Regions from separate parts of the Homo sapiens genome. Here region 2 is linked to region 1. A link means that fine-mapping ties the variant in region 1 to the expression of a gene that starts in the linked region. Tissue or cell type: whole blood. Region 1 holds a variant in brackets; the other region holds the start of a gene. All regions are shown on one strand. Distances are between the middles of the regions.

The links. PIP is the estimated chance that this variant, and not a neighbour inherited with it, causes the effect.
Region 2: it holds the start of CDKN2D, and the variant in region 1 is fine-mapped to the expression of CDKN2D in whole blood (INTERVAL, PIP above 0.99).

What each region holds. Positions count from the first base shown.
Region 1 is chr19:10,943,133-10,945,813 of GRCh38, forward strand. No RefSeq gene overlaps it. Among named protein-coding and RNA genes, the nearest start is that of TIMM29, 16 kb to the left of the region's middle. The variant C/T (reference allele first, on the strand shown) is at 1,467.
Region 2 is chr19:10,567,722-10,570,402 of GRCh38, forward strand. It overlaps CDKN2D (cyclin dependent kinase inhibitor 2D), which reads right to left and starts at 1,258. Exons shown (of 2, transcript NM_001800.4): 1 at 792-1,258. The coding sequence starts at 932. RefSeq lists an enhancer at 425-594 and a silencer at 875-1,524.

The sequences.
Region 1 (2,681 bases):
GAGGATTGCTTGAGACGAGGAGTTTGAGACCAGGAGTTTAAGACCAGCCTGGTCAACATAGTGACACCTCCATCTCTTTAAAATTGTTGTTTAATTATATAAAAGCCACTGTAGAGTTTGAATGCTTTCAAAATATCAAGAGGATGACCACAATGAAGTAAACTGTCACGGTGGGGCACAGTGCCTCATGCCTGTAATCCCAGCACTTTGGGAGGCTAATGTGGATGGATCCCTTGAGCTATGAGTTTGAGACTGACCTGGGCAACATAGGGAGACCCCATCTCTACTAAAAATATGAAAAATTTAGTAAAAACCCTGTCTCTACTAAAAATACAAAAATTAGCCAGATGTGCTGGCATGTGCCTGTAGTCCCAGATACTGGGGAGGCTGAGGTGAGAGAATCACTTGAACCTGGGAGGCAGAGGTTGCAATGAGCTGAGATCATGCCACTGAACTCCAGCCTGGGCAACAGAGCAAGACTCCCTCTCAATAAATAAATAAATAAATAAACAAATAAATAAATAAATACTAAAATAAAATATAGCCAGGGCACAGTGGCTCGCACCTGTAATCCCAGCACTTTGGGAGGCCGAGGTGGGCAGATCATGAGGTCAGGCGTTCGAGACCAGCCTGGCCAACATGGTGAAACCCCATCTCTACTAAAGATACAAAAAGTTAGGCATGGTGGTGGGTGTCTGTAATCCCAGTTACTCCGGAGGCTGAGGCAGGAGAATCGCTTGAACCTGGGAGGCAGAGGTTGCCGTGAACTGAGATCGCGCCACTGCACTCCAGCCTGGGTGACAGACCAAGACTCCCTCTAAAAAAAAAAAAATTACCTGAGTGAGGTAGTGTGCTCCTGTAGTCCCAGCTACTTGGGAGGCTGAGGTGGAGGATCACCTGAGCCCCGCAGGTTGACTCCATAGTGAGCCATGATCATCTCACTGCACTCCAGCCTAGTTGAACAGTGAGACTCTGTCTCAAAAAAAAAATAAAAATAAAAAAAAAGAGGGAGAGGCTGGGTGTGGTGGTTCATGCCTGTAATCCCAGCACTTTGGGAGGCCGAGGCAGGTGGATCACGAGGTCTGGAGATCAAGACCATCCTGGCTAACACGGTGAAACCCTGTCTCTACTAAAAATACAAAAAATTAGCTGGGCGTGGTGGCACGTGCCTGTAGTCCCAGCTACTCGGGAGGCTGAGGCAGGAGAATCACTTGAACCTGGGAGGTGGAGGTTGCAGTGAGCTGAGATCGCGCCCTTGCACTCCAGCCTGGGTGACAGAGCGAGGCCCCATCTCGAAAAAAAAAAGAGGGAGAGATAACATGTCACACCCATGAGAATAGCTAGTAAAACAAAACAAGGCTGGGTGCTGTGGCTCATGCCTGTAATCCCAGCACTTTCAGAGGCCAAGGCAAGAGGACCACTTGAGGCCAGGATTTTGACACCTTCCTGGGCCAGAGAGCGAGATC[C/T]TATCTCTAAACAAAAAAAAATATTTTTTTTTTTGAAATGGGGTCTCACTCTGTCGCCCATGCTGGAGTGCAGTGGTGCGATCTCAGCTCACTGTAACCTCTGCCTCCTGGATTCAAGCGATTCTTGTGCCTCAGCCTCGCAAGTAGCTGGGATTACAGATGTGTGCCACCATACCTGGCTAGTGTTTTGGGTTTTTTTTTTTTTTTTGCTTTTTTTTGAGACACAGTCTCATTCTGTCGCCCAGGCTGGAGAGCAGTGGCGTGATCTCAGCTCACTGCAACCTCTGCCCCCTGGATTCAAGCGATTCTTGTGTCTCAGTCTCCAAAGTAGCTGGGATTACAGACGTGTGCCAACATGGCCGGCTAGTGTTTTGTTTGTTTTGTTTTGTTTCGTTTTGAGACAGAGTCTCATTCTGTCACCCAGGCTGGAGTGCAATGGCATGGTATCAGCTCACTGCAACCTCCACCTCCTGGGTTCAAGCAATTCTCCTGCCTCAGCCTCCTGAATAGCTGGGATTACAGGCACACACCACCACACCTGGCTAATTTTTGTATTTTTAGACAGACGGGGTTTCACCATGTAGACCAGGCTGGTCTCGAACTCCTGACCTCAGGTGATCCGCCTGCCTTGTCCTCCCAAAGTGCTGGGATTATGGGCATAAGCCACTGTGCCAGACCAAAAAAAATTTTTTTTAATTAGCTAGGTGTGGTGGCGCATGCCTGTGGTCCCAGCTATTCAGGAGGCTGAGGCGGGAGAACCATTTGAGCCCAAGAAGTTGAGGCTGTGGTGAGCTTTTTTTTTCATTTTTGGAGACCTTCCAAAAAAGAAAAAAAAAAAGCTCCTTTAATGCAGATGTTTGCTATCAGCTAATGGCCATTTGCCTCTGTCTTTTTCAATTTGCGCCCTGCTGCTTTCCACAAAGGTTGCACCATTTTACATTCTTACCAATCATGCTGCACAGCACTCCGAGTTCTCTATGTCTTCACCCATACTTGTTATTTTCTGTTGTGTTTTGTTTGGGTGTGAAGTGGTATCTCATTGTGGTCTTGATTTGCATTTCCCTAATGATAAGCGATGTTAAGAAAATATTTCTTATTTAAAAATGCTTTCTTTTTTTTTGTTTGAGACAGTCTCGCTCTGTCGCCCAGGCTGGAGTGCAGTGGCGTGATCTCGGTTCACTGCAACCTCAGTCTCCTGGGTTCAAGTGATTCTCC
Region 2 (2,681 bases), 380 kb before region 1:
ATGGGCAATCACCAGGAAACAGAAAATCCCCTCCAGGAAATGGGCCCCCAGAGATGGAGAACTACCCCCAAAGAATTGATAGTCCTCATAAGGGAAAAAAGATGTCAAAGGAAAGCGAACCCCTTCTCCAGGAAATAGCCTCCTCCTACATAATGGTGATGTCACCTCAGAGTACCTGAGAGCTCCTTTCAAGAAGCGGGATTCCAAAAGTAATAATAAAAGAGAAACGAGACTTCCCTGTAAAATGTCTCCCAGGGAATATAGGGATGTCTTGCAATCTGACATTGTTCCTCCATTGGGGCCCCCATACTATATCAAGGATCCGCATAACCTTTAGGAATGAAGACCCCACCCCCAAGTAACCAGATTTGTCTCAGAGAGCCCCCTACAAAATGAGGAACCCCTAGAGACAGGACCTCTCCTTCCAGAGATCGGATCTCCCCATAGAAGCCCCAAGAAACGTGAGCCGTCCCCATGGAAACGGCATCCAAAGGAGCTGAACCCGCACCCACGGAATAAGAACCTCCCCAGGGAAAGTGAATCCCCGGCACTCAGAGAACCAGGAATCCTCCCAGAGAAGATGCTAAAAAGCTCTCCCCTCCCCCCACAACCTAGCCTCACCCACCACCCACCTTCGAAGGGGGACTGTGGGGGAACAATGAAAGCCTAGAGAAGAAGGACCGGTTCCCAGTGGGTCACCACCAGGGCCAGGAGACCAGAGAGGAGCTCTGGGGTCTCGATCCTCATCCCGCTTAGCCGCCCCGCCCCAACCTGGACCGGCCCGGCCTCACCTGCAGCGCCGTCTTGCCGAAGCGGTTGAGGGCGTCGGGATGCACCAGCTCCCGGTGCAGAAGGCGGCGCACCTCCTGCACGTCGCCCCGGGCCGCCGCCCCACTCAGCCGGTCGCCGGCGCGAACCTCCTCCAGCAGCATGTCGACACTGGCGGCCTGCAAAGCCCCCCGCCCCGCCCCAGCCCGGCGCTGTCAGCGCGGAGCAGCCGGCGGGCGCTGGCCCGAACAGCCCTCCCGGGGCGCGGCCGCGGTGCACCCGGCTGCGCTGCTCTCCCGTCCCGGCTCCCCAGCCCGAGACCCCGGCCCTCCCGGCGGGCTCCTCCCCCTGTCAGCCGGAGGACGGCGAGGGGCTGGGAGCCGGGCCCAACCCTCGGCCGCCCGCGGGGCCCTGCCCGGCGCCCGCCCCTTGGGGGCCGGGTCTCCCCCTAACTCACCCTCCCTCCTCCTCGCCGGGCGGGGTCTGCTCTGAGCCTGCGCCGCCGCCGCCGCTGAGGCAGCCGCCAGGGGGCGGAGCCAACGTGCTCCCGGCCACGCCCCGAACGCAACTGATTTGTTTTCTTACAAACTCGCTACTGTGTAGCGGCACCGCGTTGCCCGGCGCGCGACCTTACGGCGTTCCGCCCACAGGGCCTGCATAACCAGTGGCTGCGCGTCGCCGGGGAAACTTCGGGCTCGGCGTGAAACGCGTCGCTCCTGATTGGTCAGAGTGTGGCAACCGGTGGACCGCCGGCAATGGCGGGGTTTTCGGTTTTCAAATGAACCCGGCAGGCGGGAAAGAAGGCTGGTTTAACTGACCCAGGGAGAAAGGTCAGGGGCAGGGTCGCGCGGGCTGCTCTGGGACCTCGGCGCCTCCTGAGGGAAGGGAGGCAGGGCTGGAGCCACCCAATCCGAGGTTCCACTACTAATAGACATTCATTGGCCCTTACTACGAGCTGGGCGCTTTATTTCATTCATTTATTCATTCACTGTGTGCAGGGAGCGTCCTGGGAGCTGGACGCGCACATTCAAACAACCAAATAATATTAGATAGTGTCAAGCACCGTGAAGAAAGGGAAACGGAGAGACGGAGTGGATGAGGAAGGGATCACCCTGCCGGGCTCAGACTGAGCCAGCAGGAAAGGAGCCTGCAGCTGCCACGTGGGAAGGCCTGAGAGGACATAGTCGCAGCCAGACAGGGACTCAGAGGTCTTCGTTCAAATATTTACTTAGCACCTCCTAGAGGGGCCCGAGTGGAGAGCACGCCAGTCGGCCCCTGCTGCAGGGACACCTATGGTCTGGGGCCAGAGACAATAGTTAATTTTTATTTATATATGTATTTATTTTTGAGTCAGGGTCTCACTCCTGTCACCCGGGCCGGCGTGCAGTGGCGCGATCACAGCTCACTGCAGCCTCGACTTCCCGGGCTCAAGTGATCCTCCTGCCTCAGCCTCCCGAGTAGCTGGGACTACAGGGCGCACCACCACGCCCGGCTAATTTGTGTTTTTAGTAGATATGAGGTTTCACTATGTTGCCCAGGCTGGTGTTTTTTGTTTGTTATTTGTGTTTGGCTTTTAAATACAGATTTTTTTTTTTATGTTGGGGTTCTTGCTTTGTTGCCCAGGCTGGTCCCGAATTCCTGGGCTCAACGGATCCTTCTGCCTTGGCCTCCAAAAGTGCTGGGATTACAGGCGTGAGCTCCTGCTCTCCGCCAATAGTTAAATCTTTTTAGAGTGGTAGAGGACTGACCAGATGAGCCATTGAAACGGAAAGGCAAAAAGCCGGGCGCGGTGGCTCACACCTGTAATCCCAGCACTCTGGGAGGCTGAGGTGGGCGGATCACGAGGTCAGGAGTTCAAGACCAGCCTGACCAACATGGTGAAACCCCGTCTCTACCAAAAATATAAAAAATTA